Regions from separate parts of the Homo sapiens genome. Here all the other regions are linked to region 1. The links come from fine-mapping of genetic effects on gene expression. A gene starts in region 1. Each other region holds a variant in brackets. All regions are shown on one strand. Distances are between the middles of the regions. Region 1 holds the start of TENM4 (teneurin transmembrane protein 4). Region 2 overlaps TENM4 (teneurin transmembrane protein 4). Region 3 overlaps TENM4 (teneurin transmembrane protein 4).

Region 1 (8,181 bases):
ACAAAACTGGAAATGACTTTCCTAAGAAAAGAAAAGAAATTTTCATTTCACGCATTTGAAGCTGGTTTTAAATAGGCTGGATGCAAGGTTGGTGGTTCTTTCGGGGCTGTTGATTTCTCTGCCCAATCTCCACCCAACAAATGCAGGATGCTTCCTGGAAGGGGATAAGGAGGTAGAAAGGAACAAGCATCTGTGAAGGGACCACAGTATGCCAGAGGCCTTATCGATGTTAAAACTGACAGTGTTCAATAATATGAAAGATTTAAAAAGATGAGGAAATGTTCTAGGTTAAAAGAGTTTAAAGAGACATGAAAAGCTGAATGAACTCATAAGCCAGGATTTTCTATTGCTATAACGGACGTTATTGGGACAATTGGAAAAATCTGAATAAAGTTTATAGACTGGATCATAAAAAAAAACCCTGACAGTGTTGCAAACTAAGTAATATTGTGCCATTTTACAGGGGAGAGGACTGAAGCTCCAAAGACAATTTGCCTAAGGCCACAGAGCCATGATTCCAACCCAATAGTTAAGAGATTAAAGTCACATCCTATCACCTTACTCCCACAAAACCACAAAAGATTGAGGAGACTATACCAAATAGAATCAGATTCTATTGGAAGAGAGTCCGTGGGAACCCATTACTCTAACACCTAGCCTTCTACCTCATATTCCAGGTCACTCCACTCACTATAGAACTATCCTTTGATGGTTCTTGTTCAGACCAAGCACTAGTTCTGCCCGTTGGCATCCGCACTGGTCAAGGCCGGTCTATTAGGGTGGCTGATCCGCTTACCGCACCACTCTACCTCCACCCCCAAACAGAGGCCTTGATGAAAACAAGATGAGAGCAGAGGAAGAACCCAAGAACTCTTTCTAGAAAACCAAAGCTCTCCGTCCCTGATCCCTTCCCCCACCACAGAAGATGGCAATTCCACAAGCCTTCCGCACCCTGCCCTCCCCTCAGTTCAAGACACATGCTGGAAATAAAAGCTTCCCCGAATTAGCCCCCTAAAAGCACACAAACATCTATGCCCTAAGTCCTGGCTGAATATCTTGAGGACTTTCAGTTCCCCAAACATTTCCAAGGACCTACGGCACACAGGTGCCGCTAAAGGAGACACCCGTTCACTCCAGGCAATCAGCTCCAACAGGTCCAGTTCCACTAAGTGGAAGGGCTTCCCGTCAACACCCTCACCGGAGAAAACGGATTCCTCCTCAGCATTCCCTTATAACACCTGGAAAGGGGAAACCTGTTTTTTGTGCTATGTGTGACTTCGCTGCAAATCTCTCTGCTCCCCAACACATGCACACACACACACACAGGCGCGCAGAAAACTAGTTCCCACTGTCACCACCAGTGAAAACACCCCTCGTAACTTTGACGAGAAGGGCTCCCCCGCTGAAAGCCCAACTGCAGAGCGCCCGGAGCGCGCTGTGAGTCCGCAGGAACGCGGCCGGGCCGGGGACGGGAGAAAGGCGCGGCCGGGACCCTGCACTGTGCCGCGCGGCGCTTGCGGCTGGAACTTGGCCTGGAACGCGGTCTTCTCGGCTCCAGTTTCCCGCCCAGGCCCCGCCCACCCGGCCGCCCCGCTGGTTCGCACCGCTGCTCCGGCCACCGAGGAGCCCAAAGTTGGCGGCGTCCCGCGGACTCCGGCGGAGAGCGCGAGGGAGTCGCGGCCGACTCCTGTACCACGAAGACAACTGGAGGCCGGCGGGGGAGGCGGGCCACGAGGGGCTGGGGCGAGGGAGCTGGGATGCGCGGGCCCGGCTCGCCGGGAAACAGGTTGCCGCGGAGTCCCGTCCCCTCCCCCTCTGCGGTCCCCGCCGCGACCTGATTCCCGCCCTGCCCGGGGAGCTAACCCAGCCGCCTCCGGGGCGCCCTCCTTCTTCCTGGATTCCCACGGCTGGACCAGAGCCCCTCTGGCAGCCGGGTTAAAGGCTCCTTCAGCAAGGTCAAGGCGCGGCCGGCTGGCACCTGGGGATTTTTTTCCAGCCGAGCACTGGCTTTTCAATCGCATTGTTAAGGATCATGGCAGCGGCAGGAAATCCGAAGGGCCCCACAGGTCTGCGGGAGGGAGGATTTATTTTACAGCAAGGAACAGATTCAGACAGATCGGGGATTTCAGTGGGAGGGGACGAGAGGTTTCAGGACGCTGGAATGTGGCAAAAACAAAACACTCCCCACCCATGCACATCACCATCTCCTGACTGCGGGCTGGGGGGAAGGGAGTTCAGGGCCAATGTGTCCCAGACTTCAGCGTTCCCCACGGCTGTGTCAGGGCTGGGGTGGCTTATCCCCCTACAGACGAAAATCAAGATTTAAAAGCATACTCTTACTGTGGTTTCTCTATCAAAGCCCATCAACGTGATACACAGGCTGCGGCGCTGGAGGGAAGCGGCGAAACGGGGAGAATAAACGCAACAGAAGCAAACTGCTGTCTGCAGAGGCGAGAGGCGAAGGAACGGAAGCCATACCCGACCCCAGCCCCATCCCGTCCCCATCAGCGCCGGGCTAGCGCAGGAAACCAGGAATAGGTGTAGGTAAGGGTGGCAGCCCGGCAGAGCCAGCGTTCTACTCCCTCTAACCCCTCGCCAGCGTGGGCCTGGATGGCTGGGCTGCCTGGGCATCTCCAAGGGGGACCAGGCACCGCGGGCAGGTTTCTAAACACGTGAAGGGCACAGGGCTTGAAAGACAAGGAGGGGCGCCCAGGAAGGGCGGAAAAGAGGGGCTTTGGGGCTCCCCAGGACACCAAGTCAGTTTCTGAAAACGGCGTTCCCTGGAAGGCCTTCCAACACCTCCGAGGGAAGACTTGGAGCTCTGAAGACCCAATGAAACCTCAGTTCTGACTGACTCCTCCTCTGCGATCAATTCCGGATGCCCCCACTTAGTCCCTGCCTCGGTAACCGGTTCTTTGGGGACAGCAGCATCAGCACCCGACGCCCATCGCACAAGTGGGCGCCGTGGTGCGAGGCGTATCCTAGCTACCCAGGCCGGGGTGGGGGCGCCCCGGTACTTACACTCCCCAAGCAGGCAAACTTTCAGGCTTGTCTTTCGAGAACCGGGAGCTCGCATCACAGTTCCGGGTAATCACCGAGGCAGCTTATGTAATTGCCCGCGATGCCGCTCAGCAGATCTCTCTCCTTACTCGGCCTCAGAGCTCAGTACATGGGCACCCTCTTCCCCCCACCCCCCACCCCGGCGATTGGAATCCCGAGCTTGCCCCACCACCGCCTTCTACAAAGCAGCGGGGTGATCTCGTGTGCTACAAACACCAAGCCAGTATGCAGGTTCAGGCAAAACTCTGGCTGCCTCCCTGCGCCCCTTTCACTGCGTCGATGGTTTACAGATAACTGCATTTCTATAAACCCTCTCTCCACGGTTAGGGGGTGGGAGGGAGTTAGAGATCGGGTGGGGGCTTGGCGCGGTACTGTTGAGGGCTCTGCACCCAACTGAGCAGTAATACACTCATCCACATGGACGCGGGTGCATAAATCGCCTTAACATTTTGCCCTGAAAGCGGAGCCAATTTCCAAAGTTAAGGACCACGCAGCTGAATTTCCAGTACTTTCCAACCTCGCCTAGGCGGGGGCAGGCAGAGAAGGGGCGGGCAGCGGGCAGCTAACTCGCCCGACCCCCCCGCCAAGAAGGACTCACTAGGTGAACCCCCCGCCCTTCACCCAAGTAGTTGGTTGTGTATTCCTCGGTTGCGTGTGTGTGTCCACACACACACACACACACACACACACACGCCGCCCCACTACCTTCCAGTCTGCTCCTCCAATGTAACGACCGCATTTAAAAATGGCAATTAAAATGACTGAGGAGCTCGGTGATCACATTTCAACCCAGAGCACATTTCCCGAAGCTGGGGGTGAGAGTAGTCATACAGTCACACTCACACCCGGGAGCCCTCCAAGCGTCCATCTGGCGGCTGCAGCCTCAGTTGGCTCCTAGACGAACATCAATACCGCGGCCGGGCGCCCGGTGAGGAGAGGCGGGCGCCCCGCGGGTTGCAGAGGGCGAGGAGCTGGGGTCGCATCTCCAGGATCTGAGCTCCAACCACCGCCCGTGCGGGGCTGCTGCAGCCGGCACTTGCCCCGCAGGGCAGGCTGCAGCCGCTGAAGCCCGGCGCCGCCTCGCGGGCTCCTCCAGCGCCCGACGGGGGCCTGGGGCGAGCTAGTCTGCAGAGGGGCTGCAGGCGACCGGGCCGGGGCGGGGAACGGGATCCGGGAGAGGCAGACGAACCTGGGGCGCGCCGCCTCCCTCCCACCCGCTTCCCACCTCCCTGCCCTCCCCCAACCCTTGCTCCCAGGCTCCAGTCCGCGGCGGGCTCCGGGGGCTGCGGCGGCTCCAGGCTCCAGAACAGCTTGCCTCTTCGGCCACCCGCGCCCTAGCCTCCCTCCTCCTGGGCCAGGGGAGCAAGCAAACATCTCCCGGAGCCCTCGGCAGCCGCGTGAGCTACCCGAACCCTGCCCGGGCCAGCAGTGCAGAGGGCGATGGAGCTGGCGAGGCGTCGCCGCGGTCCCCAAGGCGCTTTTCCGTAGAGCGGATCACGCCGCCTTACCGTGGCTGCAGGCTGCTACCGCCGGGGAAGCGGCGAGGACGGCGGCAGGGAGGCAAGGCGCCGCGCCGGTGGCTCCTCTCTCTCTCGGCGGCGCGGCTCCTCTGCTCCGCGAGCCGTAGCGGGGCGCCCAGGAAGGAGCAGGTCCGGGCTCTGCGCTCAGCTCCAGCGAGACCAACAATAGCTCCCGCGGGGAGCGGAGCCCCAGCGAGCCTCCAGCCGCGCGCGCACGACCGGCTCCCGCTCCCGGCCGCTCCCGGCCGGCGTCCCTGCCAGCACTGCTGCCCCACATGAAACAGCTGCAATCCCGAGGCTTCTGGGGGGTTGGGGCGGGTGTGTGCGCGCGCGTGTGTGAGTGTGTGTGTGTGTGTGTGTGTTTAATAGCTTCCCTTCTCTTCTTCCCCTCCCTGCCTGCTCGCCTGCCTGCCTCCGTCCCCCACCCTCGCTCTCTTACACACAGAAAGAGAGGGCGAGCGAGAGAGAGACACACACACACACGCACACGCACACGCAGGTTACATGAATGGGAGGCGGTAGCCAATCCTACGAGGCCGGCGAGCCGCGCGGCGCACTGGCGCTGGGAGCAGGGCCGCACTCCGGCGCGGGGGGGCGCCACGCAGGTGATGGGCGCCTCTCCGGGGGCCACGCGCGGCCGCTCCCTCACCCCAGTCTCGGTTCCTCTGTCTCCTTCCCCCTTCCTCTCCGCCGCCTTCTCCATCTTCTCTCCTTTTACCTCCTTTGCTTTCTCGAGTTCTCCGAGCTCTCTCAGTTCGGTATCTTTCTGGTCTCTTTCTTCTTTTACCCTCCTTGCTTGCTTTCTCTTCCCCTTTCTGAAACTTTCTCTTTTCCTTTCTGGACTTTCTTGTACTTCCTCTCCTCTTGCCTTTTGTTCTTTCCTCCTCCTTTGGCTTTCTCTCCAGGCTCCCCGTAGCACGGTCTCGTCCCCTCTCCCTCCTCTTCGCCTTTCCCTGGGTCTCTCTGGCGCCCAGGGCCTCCCTTCTGCCTGCTCGCTGGATGTTACTCCACACCCCCCACCCCAACACTTTTCTAGGGACGGTCTCTTTCAAGTTGCTACTGCAGCACAATCAGAGTAATTAAGAGCTGAGATCTTGAGTTCCTTCTTCAGGCATGCAAGATGCCCAAAGAAAGGCCCTCCTTCCTCGGACAACTTCCCCAAAACCATGGTAACAGCTACTGAGTCGTGATAACAATCACTTAAAAAATAGCAGTGATTGCGGTCCAAGAGATTTCTGTCCCTCGAATGTTTGGATCGTGATGGCAAGCACATTTCCAAGAGAAGGGCATTTTTATGTGATGAGAGCGGTAGTTTGACTGAGTGGCAACTTGGAAGGGCTTTGGGGAAGAGACTGGAGGAATTCCCACTCCAGCCCTGCTGCCTGCTGGCTAAAGGACTTAGTGCGAGCCATTTCCCCTTACCCGGCTTCAGTTTTCTCATCTATAAAATGGATGATACCGACTTCACCAGTTTTGGTGAGGATTAAAAGAGAGAACAATGGAAAGAAAGCACTGGGTGTATATGAGATGCTTAATTTATGTTAGTTTCCTTCTTTAAGACAACTTCCTTCATGATCTTCTGCTACAGTGTGTCTCTCTGATCTAAAGTAGTCAATGAAGGAGGAAATGTGACAATGCTAATTTCACATAAATGTGAAAGGAGGGGTAGGCTATTTTGAAAACTCTTCTGTGTGGTGAGGAGACTGTCTAGCCAGTTGCCATATGCTGATTATAAAGGCATCACAGATTATAAACGTGGGGTGCTGGAATGCCCCTTCAACATCTCATAACTAGGGCATCTCAGAAAGGCAGGGATGGGTTGGGGTGGGTGGGAAGTTTCCACACAATCTGTCCAATCTATTTTTAAAATCTTTATGATAAGTGTACAGTGACCAGTGACAAAGCCTCTGAGATTAACTAAAATGTCAAGTCTCTGCCTTTGAATAGCATTTATCAACTTTGTGTCCTCACTGCAGACATCAAATGCTGGGCATCAGCTGTGATTGGCAGTTAGATTTAGTCCTTCAACAAATATTTCTTGACCACCTACTTTGTGGCAGGTGCTGTGATAGGTCTCGGCATTCAGTGGTGAGACAAACAGGCCCTGTTTTCTGAGCTTACAGTTCAGTAGGCATGTTTCATGAATGTACACTGAGAAAATGAGACACATGTACCTGAAGGAGTAACATTGGTTTGGTGGACAAATTCTTTCATTACAGAAGATCCAAGACAGGGAGTATAAGAAAGGGATCTTTGAGAGTGATAATTTTGCAAATCACTTTCAGTCTATGCATTTCATTTGACCAGTGAGAAAAATGAGACCCAGATGCTAAAAGTAGTGGGTGAAAGTATGTTGAGAAACAAAAAATATATATAGGTTCAAAGTATCTGCCCACATGATACTGATTAATTTCAAAGGGGAAAATAGTAACTTTTCAATAGAAAACCTGAAAGACTCCACCTTGAGTGATTAAAATCAGTATTAGCAGGAATGTGACAAATAGACATCAAGTGGCCCCTGATATAGTGCACTGGGAAGGACATATCACTTCTGTGATATTCCTGGTAGACATGAATAACCTGAATCTAATCATGAGGGATGCCCAATGGAATTGTTGGGAGTAAGGGAAGACTTCCCATAGGAGATGACAGGTTCTCACTCTGTCATCCAGGCTGGAGTGCAGTGGTGCCATCTTGGTTCACTGAAGCCTCAACCTCCTGAGCTCAGGTGATCCTCCCACCTCAGCCTCTTGAGTAGCTGGGACCACAGGCATGTGCCACCACACCACGCCAAACTAATTTTATTTGTTTGTTTGTTTGTTTTACAGATGAGGTCTCACTATGTTGCCCAGGCTGGTCTCAAATACCATCAATCCTCTGCCCTAGGCTTCCCAGAGTGCTGGGATTATAGGTGTGAGCTACCATACCTGGCCTTGAGCTGAGTTTTGAAGGCAAGGAATTAGCTAGACCGTGAAAGGAGGGGAGATGCTTTTTAGGTACAGGCAATAGTATGATGACATGGACAAAAGCATGAGACACTCATAGCAGAGTTGGACATATTGGGGGAGGGTCTTGGAGGAGTCTAGATGAGTCCCTAGCATCTAGGATTGGATTTTGACAGGGCCTGAAGGAGGCTAAGGATCCAAACATCCTGAAAGTTCAGGTACTGGGGCAGAAGGAGGGTAGACAGTTAATAAAGGCTTTTAAGAAGAGGAAGGATGTGATCTTGAGTGTGTTTTCAAAAGATGATTTGGCAGCAGTGTAGAGAAATGGATTAACTGGGGTGACTTAGGAAGAGTAGAGGCAGGAAAAAGTAGGTCATTTAGGGAAACTAAGGCAGTTGCAATGAAGCCAGAAAAGGGAGGAGAGATTTGAGAGAGATTGAGGATGATTTTGATTTCTGATTGGATGGGGGTAGCAAGGAGAAGCCCAAAGTGACACTCAGTTTTCAAGCTTGGGTATCTCAATAGAAGGTGGTACTACTCATTGCGATGTCAAGAGTATTCAGGAGGAAGTAGAATTCAGGGAGCATTTTAGAGGGGGGAAAAAAGGTCAGTTGCTACCATGTTATAATCTAACTCTATAGCTAACCGGAGATTCT
Region 2 (8,181 bases), 290 kb before region 1:
TCAGGGGCATGGTCTTATGGAACCAAAGATACCTTCAGAGGTTCCTTTTATCTAACGAGTTAACACAACATTCCCTAAACTCTGAGAAAAACAAACAGAAAAAAGCCACTAACCAAGGGAGAAAGACTCTCCCATATCCTAAGCACTTTCTTGGTGTGAGAGATACATCCTATGCTGCATCCTCCCAGCTCCTGAGAGCAGCCCTATCCACAGACTTTCAGCTCCAGGAAGGCGAAAACTGTACCACTCTTATCAAATAATGTGACCAAGGCCACATAACTTGTAAGTTATAGAGCTAGGCTGACTGACACCATAGCCTGTGTTTTCATTCCTCTGTTATACTCCTTAGAGGCAGCCAGTCACTGGATAAAGAGTGGTGACTACCTCCAAAGGGTCAAAGATTCACACACATATGCACAAACACACACGTGTGCATGCACACACATGCATAGACGTGTGTATACAGATATGTACATGCATGCATACGTATATGCTATTTCACTCAGAAATCAGTGGGGCTGGACTCTACAGGTTCATTACACAGTCAGCTCATCTGAGTTCCCCCCTTTCTTCTGATTTGCAAAGTATTGATACAGTCCATAATACATGAATCACACAAAGGCACATATATTTGTAGGAAACTTTACAGTTTACAAAACACTCAATCTCTCATCCAACACTCACCACCAGCCTTCTGAACATATATAAATATTTGATGATTTGCAGGCCTCCCAGTCTGTGTGTTTAAGGACCTTCATTCTGGGGGGCTCTAATCCTTACCATCTAGGACCGGGGCTATGGCATCAGTGAGAGATTGGCAGGATTTGTGCAGCTTCTCGGACCCACTCTAAAATTTCCCTTTTAACTGTATATTTCCATAGCAACCCATCATCCTTGTCTGACTCTGAGAAGTAGAGTTTTAACCTCATGAATTTTCTGAGGTTGGGCTTATGTTTGCATGAGAGTTTATGAGATGTGAACACTACTGTATCCCTAATGAGTATGCCCGTTCTTTTCTCTCCTTATGAGAGTCTCTAGCACCTCCTATCTTCTCCTCTGGCTAAAGGTAAGTAGTTCTGCCATTACTTATAATCATACTAGCAACTGCCATGTTTTGAACACTTTCTATGTACCAGGTACTAGGTGCTTTATGTACATTATCTCAGTACATCCTCACGCAACCCTTTGCAACATTTATTGGCATCCTCATTTAACAAATGAGGAAACAGATGATCAGAGATGAGAAATGGCAGTCTATGGCCACATAGTCAGCAAGTGATAGGGCTTGGATTGGACCCAGATTCCATGGATTCCCAAGACCTGGCCCATTCCAGTGCCTGAGATGGTAAGAAGCAGCAACTTCTTTACTCTGAGTCAGCAAAACGATCCAAGTGGAGGTCAGAGGCATGGTAGTGACTATCTCTTCCTACCTTCCTTGTTTTCACCAAGCTCAGAATGATGAAGTGACTTTCCTGAAAACACAACAAGAGTAGAACTGGGGCTGAACCCAGGCCTGCTCTTTGGGTTTACCCTGCTTTGATTCTCATCCATATACTGGGCAAAGATCACTGGAGGTGCTCTGTCTGTATTCCAAGTGACCAGGGTGGGAGCTGCTCTTGAAACCAACTTATGAGAAATGATTGGAGGAACAAATAACAAGAAAAGATCTTGAGGAGGGACATGCTGTTTACATTCACCTATTTTAGGATGTCTAGTAGAGAAGAAAGAGACTTGGCAAGACGTGGAGTGAATTTCAAGTCCAGATTATGGGAGAGCTCTACAAAAATCCTAAGTGTGGGGAGATACCAACCTCCAAACCAGTCCCTGCAAGTTTCCAAGAACAGGCCAGGGATCTATAGAGATGCTGTTGTGGGTTTCCCAGCATCCAGGAGGGAATGGTCCGTACCTCTAAAACCCTTTTATCTCTAAGATTCCACAAGCCTTTGAAACATATAAAAATCTTGCAGGGAAGGCAAGCAGTAATCCTGCACTCTTTGTTCATTGTTCTTAGGGAAAAAAAAATCTTTATTGTAAAATAAATGAAGATAAAGTCTACCTATTAATGCATATTTAAGAGGTAGAGAAAAAAAGAACCCATAACATTAACTTAAATCATGAATACTCTCTGAAGTGTAAAAAAAATCAACTCACTTTTCTTTAAATCTTCTTAAAAGGGTCTAAGAATAGTCCTTCAAATAATCCTTGAAGTATGCAATTTTAATTTGGACACATGGTAATTTCAGTCTACCTGTTGAAAGAGACAAGAGACAAATCAGTCATTTTTGATGAGGATGCTGTTCTGATAAGCAGTAGAGAAGATTCTGGCAGCTTGGGAGGTGGGGGTGAGACGTGGGCATGGGCATTAGTAGCAGCAGTATGAGCTTTGGTCCCAAGCTGAAGTCTAGTGTTTGAACGCTCAGAGGAAAGATGCAACTAAAGTAGCTACTAGCACAGTGCCTGGCACATGGCAAATGCTCATTAAGTAGTTGATGGACAAGTAAAAGGATGGCTGAGAAAATGAGTGGGATTTATCATCAAGCTTTCATGCAGGGAGTTACTTTGTAGCCTCATCTCTTCAACTCTTAGGGAGAGAGAATCTCCAGGTACTGGGCATATAATGGAAAGCAGCACAGAGAAAGGTACCAGTGGAGTAAAGAGAGTGAGGGATTTGAGCCAGCCATAGCTATGCCCAAATCCTGGCCCCACCACTTCTGACTGCACAACTCTGGGCTGGTTTATTTACTTATATTTGCTGTTGTTCCTAAATTGGATACTTAACCCATTCATTAATTTTCAGCTCTTCTTTTTTAATATAAGCATTTAAGGTGATAAATTTCTCTCTAAGTGCTGTCTTGGCTATATTCCACAACTTTTGATATTTAATATTTCTTTGGTCATTCATTTATAATCATTTTATAATTTCTGTTATCATTTCTTTTTGATCTGAGAGTTAGTTGGAAGTATTTTTATAAATATATCTCAATATAGGTTTTTAAAAAACATCTCATCTTTCTGTTACTGAGTTCTAACTTAATTGCACTGTGGTAGGTGAATATGGTCTGTAGGATACTGACTCCTTGAAATTTACTGGATTGTATTTTACGGCCTAGGATACAGTCCACTTTCGTGAGTGTTTTATATGTGCTTAGAAAGAGTGTGCATTCTCTGGCTGTCGGGTTGATCTTGGGCTGGCTTTCTTTAAATGTTTCTGCATCTCCATTTCCTCACCTGTAATAAGGTATGTGAGCAATACACATTAGTTCCCTCACACCATTTAAAATTATACTCACTGACAAAGACACAGTGCACAAGGAAAGATCAAGGTATGCTCTTTTTTCTTTATAACAGTATCACTAACAATGCCCTACACTGATAAAGTACTTAAAAGTTTCTAAACAATGACCACGTCTGTTATTTGGTCTTAAACCTGTATAATGTCACCTAGGCAGGTAGAGGTGGGAACCCACAAAGAAAAAGGACACACACCAGTTGGTGCAGTGATTTATTCAGTCCTCAATGCCAGAACCCCAGGATCCCTCTGACTCGCCTCTGCCCCTCACTCCTCACTCCTGCTCGGTTCAGCCTTCTTATCATCTTTCAAATCCATCCTTGTTATGACCTACAATGCCTCCATCATTTCTTACCTGCTTGGTTCTCACAGATCATTAAATTCCTACTGTTTTAAAAATACAGCACAGAAAGTAAATCCTGACAAAATCCTCCTGGCAGATGTGGCTCTCAAATAAGCCTGGTGTTAGGTCTTGGGTGCCAGAACATCAGTCTTGCAGGGGAGAGTGATGTTTATGTCTATCAAAGCAGGCATGAGTTTAGAAAGGTCAAAAAACACTGTGTTGAGTTCAAATTTCTTCATCTAGCAAACAGCCCTTCCCATGACCTTGTCCCCTGTCCTGCCCCCAAGTTCCTTTTCTCCTTTTCAGAGAGATTTCCTGAAAGAGTCATCTAGACCACCACTTCCTCCACTCCCACACTCTTCACAAA[T/C]CGTTGCCTTGTGGCTTTCAGCCTCTTTCTTTAAGATCATAGGGATGTTGTCACTGCATATTCCAGACACTTCTTCTCAATCTGCAGTGGCCTCTCTGGGTCATTTGCTAGCAGGGACCCCTTCCCTCTAGAAATTCCTGCCTCCATATCAGCAACACCAGTTTCTCCTGGTTCTTCTTTCCCCCCAAGGACTTTCTCTGACTCCTTCACAAATTCTGTGGTTTGAATGGGCATTTTCATAATTTAATTAGAAGTGTTTTTTTATAAAATAATAACCATAAACTACACTTTATTAAGGGCATACCAATCACTGTGCTAAACATTATTTTATTCTACTTAATCTTCACAATAACCACACGAGGTAGACATTATTAATATTCCTATTTTACAGATGAGAAAATAGAAGCTTGGAAAAGTGACCTAATTTGCCCAGGATCACTCAGCTACTATGTGGCAGAACAGGGATTCAAACCGCAGTCCATCCAATCATAGCCTGTGCTCTCAGCCACTACATTAACTCATCCTGCCTTCCTATACCATGGCTTCTGTGACTCACCATTCTTCCACGATGTCATGGATTTCATGCTCTCATTTTGCTTCCCTCTGAAGGGAAGGCCTTTATCCATACTGTGTGCTGAGAAAATTCTGTTTATTGTTTAAAGCTCAGCTCTTCCCACAAAGCTATTAGCGAGCCAAACCAGTTTCACTGCTTCCATCTCTTTGCTGTGGCAGCTCTACAATGATATGAAACCATCCATTCATCCATCTGACCATGCATCCATCTCTCCACCCAAGAATTACACAAGTATAGTAGAAGATTGCTTATCTAGAAGTCTAAACACAAGAAGCATCCAGACAAAGGAATTGTTCCAAAGGATTTTTTATGTTGACTCTTTGAAAAAATAATCATACTATGGTCAAAATTGAAGAAAACTTGCTAGAAGTTGTGGTGTTTGGGGAAGAGATGTGCTCTGTGTGTCATGTGTTAATGACTGGTCAAGGACAGTCATCCATGGGACCTGGCCGGGGCGCTTTCCGAGGTTACTAAACTAGATCTGTCCAATTTCCCTTACCCAATCCCCACATTTTAAAATCATATTTACATATCATCCCTGGCTCAAATACCTCATTATCCCTGAAGTCTTCCCTGATTCTCCTCCCCCAACAGGCACAGATGAACCTAGACACTCCCCCTACCCCTCACAATGTATCTCTCTGTGTTCTCTCTGCTGGCACTTGGTATTTAATCATTTGTAGATAATAGTGCATTTCAAAAAGCACTTCAACATTTTCATTGCATGCTTTATCTCCACCTCCTGTCTCCTTGGAGGTAAGAGATGCATCTAATTTACCCTAGATATTTTCAGAACCAACCCCAGTGGCTGGCACACAGATGTCAATGAGTGACTGATTGATTAAAATTAGATGACATTGTCCTTGAATGGAGAAGGCCATCCAAATATCACTCAAATGCAAGCACCAAGCAGTGTATTATGCAAAGAGTACGTGCTAAATAAACATAAAATCCTTCCATCCTCTCTCCACTCCTCAAAATTGAGGACTAGAAAAGAAACGCAATGTGTCCATTGAGCCTGAGGTTTCTGAAGATCTGTGTTCCATGGTTCACAAATATTAATATGTTGGTGTGGTGGCTTTTGATATTCTCCATGATCAACCAGGAACTGAAAACCCATGTTTGGCTACATTCTACTTTGCTTAGTCAGAAAATGAGAGTTAGAGCTTTGAAGATAGACAAGACCTTCAAAGTGAACGGCTACAACCACTTTCTTTTACAGAGGAGAACCGGAGAGGTTCATCGTCTCCAGGTCATAGGCCAAGAAAGGTTGTGCAGATGCATTTTCCCTGTTCCCTCCTAGACTTGCAAATGAAGCCTCTAGGAAACTGAGTGCTTTCTGGATGGCTAAAAATAAACTCCCAGAAACTTCATCTAGATATATCATGGCTGTAATTTACAGCGTCTAGAACTTTAGCATGGTATAATTAGCAAATGGATTACAACAATTTATTTTTGGTTTAAAAGCTCGAATGAACACAACCTTCCAGTGGAACGGGAAAACAAGGGGCTGGGAGCCAGCTGCATTCCTCCAACCCCTTCCAATGCCACAGTGTTTGTGCTGGCTGGCAGCCCTCTACTGATGTCCAATGGATATGCAAAGAGAAGGAACTGCAATTCTGAGCTCTGGGCTCCCTGAAGCATGACTTCCTGGACATAGCCTCCCAAAATGGTCAATGTTCATCCTTTTAGTGAGCAGGAAGATGTCCAAACTCACCTTTTCAATGCACAGGAAAACCCAACGGCATTCATCAAGAGGACAGAAGAGCTGCCAACCTTAAACTGATGCAGAAGAAAGGTATACACTGAACAAAACATACCAAAGACTAATTACATGGATGTTTGTTCTTCTAAAGATTCTGGGCACATTTTTAGAATGGCTTTCCATCACTTGCCTTACTGCGGGGAAAGTTTGTTGTGATGTCTCTGAATAGGCAGTACTAAAGGATGATACCAAGATAGACACTTGTCACGAAGCTAGAAGATGACTAGACTGGGGTCAGAGAGGACCTGTGCTCAGGTTTTGGTTTGTTATGTGTGCCATGAATAACAACCAATTCAAAACCCTTTTATAAAATGTCAGTAATGAGTAACTACCTCACAAGATTGTTATGGGGATTAAATGAGAAAAATGTATGAAAAGGATTTTGTAAATGAATATTAGATGATTCTTCTTGTGTGAATACATGTCCAAAGCAGATCATTCTGATGAGGACTTTTTCTGACCAAAGCACTGTAGAACATTGCAGCAAGGGCCAGGGGCAGAGCAGCAGAAATCCTGGGAAATTTTCTTCTCATGTTTCCTTGCACGGTGTCTGGGCAGAGGCAAGTCACCCAGCAGAACAATCAGAGCTAGGAAAGATGGATCCCGACTTGGGTAAGGAGCACAAGACAACCTGTCTCCCTTCTCTCACACCCCTACCAAAACCAAGTATCTGCCCAAACACCCCTTAACCTAGAAGGTGGCATGATGGTGGCCAGGCAGTGTGGGAAACCGAAGCAGTGGTTCTTGCGGCTGAAAGAAGGGGAAGGGTAGTTTTCTGAGCATCTGCCATGTACGAGGCACAGTGCTGGGTCCTTTCACACTGGGGCTCTTCTCCAAACCATGCAAGGTTCCCCTGACACCATGTTATACCATTGCTCATGCTGTGTGTGGGTCTACGAGGCCCCCTTTCTTCTCTCTGATTCTTCAACCAGCCCCTGAGCAGGAAGACTTAGACCCTCATCCTCTCACTCGTTCAATTCTTAGTGATCTTAGGTAAGGTAAGTCATCCATTTTGGAAGGACTTCAGTTTTCTGATCTGTCAGGTTAGGACAAGAACCCCAAACTCACTGCCTTACCAGATTGCTTTCAGACTCAAAAACACTGGGTGTGAAAAGTTTTAAAAACAGTGCAAAAACCTGAAGGCTTATGTCACCCCTTGTTCAAGCTCCTCAAGAGCTTCCTCTTGCTGCTTGTGCTAGTTGGCTTTTGTGTTGCTATAAAGGAATACCTGATGTTGGGTAATTAAAAAAAAAGAGGTTTAATTGGCTCATGGTTCTGCAGGCTGTACAGGAAGCATAGTGTTGGCATCTGCTTCTGGTGAGGGCCTCAGGAAGCTTCCAATCATCGGGGAAGGAGAAAGGGAGCCAGCACATCACATGGCAAGAGAGGGAGTGAGAGAGAGAGAGGAGGTGCCATGTTCTTCTAAACAACCAGATCTCACATAAACTCATAGAGTGAGAACTCACTCATTACCATGAAGAGAGCACCAAACCATTCATGACAGATCTGTCCCCATGTCCCAAACACCTCCCACTAGGCCCACCTCCAACACTGGAGGTCACATTTCAACATGAGATTTGGAGGGAACAAAACATCCAAACCATACCACTCTTAAATAAACATTACATGTCTACTTTGTCCCCTGACCCCCTGCTGATGTTATGTTCCCATCAGGGCCCCTTGTTCCCCCAGCTCCATCCAAACCAGGCATCTTTCAGGTAATTATGCTCAAGGAGTAAGTGCCGTCCCCAAGGCTGGGAGTCCCCTCTTCCCCTTCAGCTCTCAGCTTAGCCTTACTCACTTGCAGGAGAGCTCCTTGGCCCCTCAGAGGAAGGAGTTTCCT
Region 3 (8,181 bases), 760 kb before region 1:
CCTTTTCTACATCTATTGAGATAATCATGTGGTTTTTGTCTTTGGCTCTGTTTATATGCTGGATTACATTTATTGATTTGCGTATATTGAACCAGCCTTGCATCCCAGGGATGAAGCCCACTTGATCATGGTGGATAAGCTTTTTGATGTGCTGCTGGATTCGGTTTGCCAGTATTTTATTGAGGATTTTTGCATCAATGTTCATCAAGGATATTGGTCTAAAATTCTCTTTTTTGGTTGTGTCTCTGCCCGGCTTTGGTATCAGAATGATGCTGGCCTCATAAAATGAGTTAGGGAGGATTCCCTCTTTTTCTATTGATTGGAATAGTTTCAGAAGGAATGGTACCAGTTCCTCCTTGTACCTCTGGTAGAATTCGGCTGTGAATCCATCTGGTCCTGGACTCTTTTTGGTTGGTAAACTATTGATTATTGCCACAATTTCAGAGCCTGTTATTGGTCTATTCAGAGATTCAACTTCTTCCTGGTTTAGTCTTGGGAGAGTGTATGTGTCGAGGAATGTATCCATTTCTTCTAGATTTTCTAGTTTATTTGCGTAGAGGTGTTTGTAGTATTCTCTGATGGTAGTTTGTATTTCTGTGGGATCGGTGGTGATATCCCCTTTATCATTTTTTATTGTGTCTATTTGATTCTTCTCTCTTTTTTTCTTTATTAGTCTTGCTAGCGGTCTATCAATTTTGTTGATCCTTTCGAAAAACCAGCTCCTGGATTCATTGATTTTTTGAAGGGTTTTTTGTGTCTCTATTTCCTTCAGTTCTGCTCTGATTTTAGTTATTTCTTGCCTTCTGCTAGCTTTTGAATGTGTTTGCTCTTGCTTTTCTAGTTCTTTTAATTGTGATGTTAGGGTGTCAATTTTGGATCTTTCCTGCTTTCTCTTGTAGGCATTTAGTGCTATAAATTTCCCTCTACACACTGCTTTGAATGCGTCCCAGAGATTCTGGTATGTGGTGTCTTTGTTCTCGTTGGTTTCAAAGAACATCTTTATTTCTGCCTTCATTTCGTTATGTACCCAGTAGTCATTCAGGAGCAGGTTGTTCAGTTTCCATGTAGTTGAGCGGCTTTGAGTGAGATTCTTAATCCTGAGTTCTAGTTTGATTGCACTGTGGTCTGAGAGATAGTTTGTTATAATTTCTGTTCTTTTACATTTGCTGAGGAGAGCTTTACTTCCAACTATGTGGTCAATTTTGGAATAGGTGTGGTGTGGTGCTGAAAAAAATGTATATTCTGTTGATTTGGGGTGGAGAGTTCTGTAGATGTCTATTAGGTCTGCTTGGTGCAGAGCTGAGTTCAATTCCTGGGTATCCTTGTTGACTTTCTGTCTCGTTGATCTGTCTAATGTTGACAGTGGGGTGTTAAAGTCTCCCATTATTAATGTGTGGGAGTCTAAGTCTCTTTGTAGGTCACTGAGGACTTGCTTTATGAATCTGGGTGCTCCTGTATTGGGTGCATAAATATTTAGGATAGTTAGCTCCTCTTGTTGAATTGATCCCTTTACCATTATGTAATGGCCTTCTTTGTCTCTTTTGATCTTTGTTGGTTTAAAGTCTGTTTTATCAGAGACTAGGATTGCAACCCCTGCCTTTTTTTGTTTTCCATTGGCTTGGTAGATCTTCCTCCATCCTTTTATTTTGAGCCTATGTGTGTCTCTGCACGTGAGATGGATTTCCTGAATACAGCACACTGATGGGTCTTGACTCTTTATCCAACTTGCCAGTCTGTGTCTTTTAATTGCAGAATTTAGTCCATTTATATTTAAAGTTAATATTGTTATGTGTGAATTTGATCCTGTCATTATGATGTTAGCTGGCGATTTTGCTCGTTAGTTGATGCAGTTTCTTCCTAGTCTCGATGGTCTTTACATTTTGGCATGATTTTGCAGCGGCTGGTACCGGTTGTTCCTTTCCATGTTTACCGCTTCCTTCAGGAGCTCTTTTAGGGCAGGCCTGGTGGTGACAAAATCTCTCAGCATTTGCTTGTCTATAAAGTATTTTATTTCTCCTTCACTTATGAAGCTTAGTTTGGCTGGATATGAAATTCTGGGTTGAAAATTCTTTTCTTTAAGAATGTTGAATATTGGCCCCCACTCTCTTCTGGCTTGTAGGGTTTCTGCCGAGAGATCCGCTGTTAGTCTGATGGGCTTTCCTTTGAGGGTAACCCGACCTTTCTCTCTGGCTGCCCTTAACATTTTTTCCTTCATTTCAACTTTGGTGAATCTGACAATTATGTGTCTTGGAGTTGCTCTTCTCGAGGAGTATCTTTGTGGCGTTCTCTGTATTTCCTGAATCTGAACGTTGGCCTGCCTTGCTAGATTGGGGAAGTTCTCCTGGATAATATCCTGCAGAGTGTTTTCCAACTTGGTTCCATTCTCCACATCACTTTCAGGTACACCAATCAGACGTAGATTTGGTCTTTTCACATAGTCCCATATTTCTTGGAGGCTTTGCTCATTTCTTTTTATTCTTTTTTCTCTAAACTTCCCTTCTCGCTTCATTTCATTCATTTCATCTTCCATTGCTGATACCCTTTCTTCCAGTTGATCGCATCGGCTCCTGAGGCTTCTGCATTCTTCACGTAGTTCTCGAGCCTTGGTTTTCAGCTCCATCAGCTCCTTTAAGCACTTCTCTGTATTGGTTATTCTAGTTATACATTCTTCTAAATTTTTTTCAAAGTTTTCAACTTCTTTGCCTTTGGTTTGAATGTCCTCCCGTAGCTCAGAGTAATTTGATCGTCTGAAGCCTTCTTCTCTCAGCTCGTCAAAATCATTCTCCATCCAGCTTTGTTCTGTTGCTGGTGAGGAACTGCGTTCCTTTGGAGGAGGAGAGGCGCTCTGCGTTTTAGAGTTTCCAGTTTTTCTGTTCTGTTTTTTCCCCATCTTTGTGGTTTTATCTACTTTTGGTCTTTGATGATGGTGATGTACAGATGGGTTTTCGGTGTAGACGTCCTTTCTGGTTGTTAGTTTTCCTTCTAACAGACAGGACCCTCAGCTGCAGGTCTGTTGGAATACCCTGCCGTGTGAGGTGTCAGTGTGCCCCTGCTGGGGGGTGCCTCCCAGTTAGGCTGCTCGGGGGTCAGGGGTCAGGGACCCACTTGAGGAGGCAGTCTGCCCGTTCTCAGATCTCCAGCTGCGTGCTGGGAGAACCACTGCTCTCTTCAAAGCTGTCAGACAGGGACACTTAAGTCTGCAGAGGTTACTGCTGTCTTTTTGTTTGTCTGTGCCCTGCCCCCAGAGGTGGAGCCTACAGAGGCAGGCAGGCCTCCTTGAGCTGTGGTGGGCTCCACCCAGTTCGAGCTTCGCGGCTGCTTTGTTTACCTAAGCGAGCCTGGGCTATGGCGGGCGCCCCTCCCCCAGCCTCGTTGCCGCCTTGCAGTTTGATCTCAGACTGCTGTGCTAGCAATCAGCGAGATTCCGTGGGCGTAGGACCCTCTGAGCCAGGTGTGGGATATAGTCTCGTGGTGCGCCGTTTCTTAAGCCGGTCTGAAAAGCGCAATATTCGGGTGGGAGTGACCCGATTTTCCAGGTGCGTCCGTCACCCCTTTCTTTGACTCGGAAAGGGAACTCCCTGACCCCTTGCGCTTCCCAGGTGAGGCAATGCCTCGCCCTGCTTCGGCTCGCGCACGGTGCGCGCACACACTGGCCTGCGCCCACTGTCTGGCACTCCCTAGTGAGATGAACCCGGTACCTCAGATGGAAATGCAGAAATCACCCATCTTCTGCGTCGCTCACGCTGGGAGCTGTAGACCGGAGCTGTTCCTATTCGGCCATCTTGGCTCCTCCCTAGATTCTTAACTAAATGAAACTTACGGTGAAAAAAGCAAATTTCAGCTGTAAAATACACATAGAGTTTCTTTCTATAGATGAAAATACTATCTCTGGATTTGTGCTGCACTCTCCTGTCTCTGGCCCTTCCTTGGCTGTTTCCTCTGCACTGCCCCCGTCTTCAGTAAGTGCTGGCTTAAGACTCCCTCCAGGCTCTGCTAAAATGTCATCTCTTTCCAGAAGCTTCCCCTGTTCCACTGGCCAGAATGTATGACTCCCTGTCCTGTACACCCCTCAGCCTTTCTATGGGCCTCCTCAGTGGTCTTGCAGCTGAGGGGTGTGGGAGTCACTGCTCCGTTAATGAACAAATTCTCCAATATTTGAGTGCGTGCTGTGAGAGGCACTATGGCACAGAGATTAGGAGCTTGGCTTTGCAGCCAGGCTACTTCAGCTCAGGTTCCAGCTCTGTGGCTGCCTTGCTGTAAGACCTTGGCCAAATTCTTAACCTTCCATGCCTCTGGTACTTCATCAGTACACTAGGACAATAATTGTACCCTGCTTTGCAGGATGCTCTGAGGATTGAGTGAGATCATGAATATGAAGAGCTGAGAACTGTACTTGGCATATAGTGTTATGTAAATGTTAGCTGTCAC[T/C]GGTTTTATGTGCCTGGCACTGTGCTAGTCACTGTCATGTGTGTCTCTTGTCTCTCCTCTATCTCCACCATCCCATTTCTCTCTCTCTCACAAACACACATACACACAGACACACACACACACATCATGGTGAACTTCTCTAGTGCTGACCATGGTCCTGGAATAGGGCCCCTTGTCTTTAGATTGGCAGTTAAGAGAATAGGTTCTATAGAGCCTGTTTGCCTGGGTCCAAACACCCAATTAGGTGTGTGACTGGGGCAAGCTACCTAACCTCCGAGTGCTTCTCACTGCCTTCATGCAGAAAACAGAGACAATAATACTTACCTCCTAGGCATATGCGGTACTATATGAGGTACCTTATGAGGTACTGCTTAATGTAAAATGCTGAAAATATGCTTTGCAGTTAATAAGTGCTCCAAAAATGTTAGCTATCATCATCGTTAGGATTATATGTGCTCAGTAAATTTTTGCTGGATGAAACTAGTTATGTTCCAGGCTATGTCAAGAACTAAAGATAGTTATTAAGCAATAGTTTTCATGGGAAACCCTCACTGAATATTTTCTGCTAGAATGGCTTCAAACAGGCCCCCCCCACTCCCTCCTCTCTCCATCTTTCTCTCTCACACATGCAAAAATTCTAAAATCTGCCTCAAACTTGCTATGCATTATTCACTGACAATCTATATTTTTCTGCCTTTGAACAGTGAAAAAGCCTGTGTCAATTTATCCTTTAAAGCTGCTCCTTGCTGAATCCACATATGTCCATTAATGGTGACTTGGAGGGAACAGCATCTGTAGAGGCCCATCTCAGATGATCCCATTTAATGTGGGCTGTGACTTCCCAAGGCCGCTGCTCATTAGCAGCTACTTCTTATTACTTTCCACAGTTTAAACAGAAGATGAAACCGAAAGAGCTTTTCACAGAGACTCTAGTGAGGCAGCTGCAAAACTGAGCATCTGAGCCTGGTACTCAAGAAGGAAAGAGCTTGGCAGAGCTACCAAAGAGGAAAAACAGGTACCATGTTTCCTGGATTCCAAGAAGTGATTTTTCTTTTCATATTTTAATGTTTTTTTGAAATTGGAATGTGTCCACGTATGCCTTTTGAGCAGTATGACTTTTTTCCCTCTGCCTAAAAAGTTATTAAATTGATGAATACATTTAAAAACTGAGGAATGTGGCACTTTCAAATTTTAAAAAGTTGCCCAAATATAAGAAAGCCCACATGAACCTTTGAGAAAAATACTCACAGCCAGTTTAGCAGTATGGAATGGATGGATAATTCTTAATCACAGGGAACAAGACAGGCCTGAAGGACAAGATGTCTGAGTAATTGGTGGTCCTGCAGTCCTTGGTCAGGCAAGATCTTGGCTGCCTCAGAAATTGTACCTTCTCTTGGCAATAATCCAGTCAGAGCATAAATCCCTGGGGTCTGTCCCAACCCACTTGTGATATTATGATTATATATCCACAGTTCCCAGCTCATAACTCCTATACCCCTTCTCATAGTCTTTGGTTCTAATGTTGAGGCACTTCAGGACTCAGAAGCAGGCCTTAGGAAACAATCTCTCTGCCTCTCTCTCTGACCTTCTCCTGCCCTCCTCTCCAAGGCAGGACTCTAATCTGACTGTGGGTCATAAGACGTACTTTCAGAGGGGATCCTGCTCCATACCCTGGAGGAAGGAATGAGTGCTGCACAGAGAGGCCAAGAAGAATCTGAAGAGACAGGCCTTGCTGGGTCCGATCACATTTCTACATGGTTGTCAATCATGCCTATCCAATGAAGGCTTCCTAAAAGGCCCAAGAAGACAGAGTTTGGGGAGCTGAACATACGGAGGTCCATGGAGGGGTGAAGGTGATGTGCCTGGGGAGGGTGTGAAAGCCCCACGCCCCTTACCCTATATCTTGTCATATACATCTCTTCGTCTATACCCTTGGTAATGTCCTTTATGATCAACTGGTAAATGTAAGTATTTCTCTAGTCCTGTGAGCTGTTCCAGTAAATTAACTGAACCCAAAGAAGCAGTCATGAAAATCTCAACTAGAAGCCAGTCAGATAGAAGTTCCAGAGGCCCAGACTTGTGACTGGTGTCTGAAGTATGATAGATGGGGTGGGGTTGGGGGGGCAGTTTTGGGGACTGAGCCCTCAACCGGTGGGATTTGAGGCCATCTCCAGGTAGATAGTGTTGGAATTGAGTTGAAGGACACCCAGCTGGTGTCCACTGCAGAGTTGATTGCTTGCTTCATGGTGGGGAGAACCCCACCTCTGCCTATATTTGGTCACAGAAGTCTTCTGTTGATGACTATTGTGTGAGAACAGACGAAACACTGAGTTTTCCTCAAAAACCACGGTTAAAGGTGCTTGGTGAAGAAGGAATTCCAGCGTGTGGTTTCTCTTTCTTTGAGAACCTTTATTGTTCTTGGAGCTCTTTGAAAGGCAAAGGACTAAATTTGGGAGTAAAAGTGGTTGTAAGAATATACAGACATTTATTTTCTCATGGTAAGTTAAACTGCTTGCTAATTAATTAATTACTTAAGGAATCCAATAGTATTGCTTATTGAGCAATAGTATGTGCTTGGCTCATGCTAGTCACTACACTGTCTAAAGAGATCGACTGAGCAGCCCTGTGGGGCAGGTGTTAAAATTCAGCCCCCTTTCCCAGACCCAGAGACCAAGGCTCAGAGAAGAAGAGTGACCCCAGCCAGTTCACACAGGTGGGAACTGGCATGATGGGCACAGGGCCCCAAATCGCCCACCCAGAACCCCTGCTCTTCTCACTGCTCCACCCCATTCCACACAGCTTCAGCTTGCTTTCTTTTCCTGGAGAAGAAACCAAGGGTCACGGTGGGTGATGTGGTGGCAGAGTCAGAACTAGAACTTGGGCTTCTGACTCTTACCCTGAGGCTCCTTTCACTGCTTCGTGTGAAAGCCTTTGGAGGTACAAAGAGCCATCCAGCGGGCAGGAAAGAATCAGGCAGAGCTTTCCCTGGTGATGGCTTCTTTCTTTTCAAGTTTACTAAATCCCACAAAGCTGCAAGCCCACCTGGGTCACCACATCCCATGAGAACAATTGAGGCAGATAATTAACAGCAAGATTTCATCATTGTGAAATCTTTTTACTTGAAGCTAAAAGACCAACCCGTAACAGGATGATTTGACAAATGCAAAGAAGGGTCTCTTTTCTATGAAATCCTAGAAGAGGCACAAACCTTCTCACCTGGGCTTCAGGAAGGACTTCTCCATAATCAAATCCCTTTCATAATTATGCGTAATTATTTTTGTCCTTTGTCCTCACCTACACCAGTGTGAGTGTGTCTGTTAATCTGGGAGTCATTAGGATGGCAGAATAGCGAGGTCACCTGGATTAGCAGCTAATGAATTCCCTACCCTTTGTTCTGATAACAGGATAGGACAATAAAATATTATTCTTAAGCTTCTGAGAGGGAATTTACTTGACTCAGGCTGGTATATTTTGCAAATTAGGTGATAATACAGAGAGTTGCAATGCTTTCCTGTTCTTGGGCAGCTCCAGCAGCAGCCTATTTCTTGTGCCATCCTCCTCCAAAGGGGTCTTCCCACCCCTCTGCCTCAAAGTCCCCTGGCCCCCACCTGACTTACCTTGCAGCAGTGTGTAGAAGGCGCCTGAGGCAGACAGGTTGGTGGTTATGGTGACATCATCCTTGCTGGAGGTCTCTACCTGGACATGCACTGAACTGTCTGTATCACTTCGGAAACTGCTCACCTGGCCAGTAGG

The links. PIP is the estimated chance that this variant, and not a neighbour inherited with it, causes the effect. A credible set is the group of variants that fine-mapping cannot tell apart.
Region 2: its variant is the best candidate, but not a certain one, in a credible set for the expression of TENM4 in monocytes (BLUEPRINT, PIP 0.83).
Region 3: its variant is the best candidate, but not a certain one, in a credible set for the expression of TENM4 in coronary artery (GTEx, PIP 0.53).

What each region holds. Positions count from the first base shown.
Region 1 is chr11:79,435,941-79,444,121 of GRCh38, forward strand. TENM4 (teneurin transmembrane protein 4) reads right to left here and starts at 5,090. Exons shown (of 34, transcript NM_001098816.3): 1 at 4,569-5,090. RefSeq lists silencers at 4,679-4,788, 5,049-5,218.
Region 2 is chr11:79,146,559-79,154,739 of GRCh38, forward strand. It overlaps TENM4 (teneurin transmembrane protein 4), which reads right to left. Exons shown (of 34, transcript NM_001098816.3): 4 at 2,152-2,248. Among named protein-coding and RNA genes, the nearest start is that of TENM4-AS1, 57 kb to the left of the region's middle. The variant T/C (reference allele first, on the strand shown) is at 4,000.
Region 3 is chr11:78,680,009-78,688,189 of GRCh38, forward strand. TENM4 (teneurin transmembrane protein 4) reads right to left here. Exons shown (of 34, transcript NM_001098816.3): 29 at 8,046-8,181. Among named protein-coding and RNA genes, the nearest start is that of NARS2, 110 kb to the left of the region's middle. The variant T/C (reference allele first, on the strand shown) is at 4,429.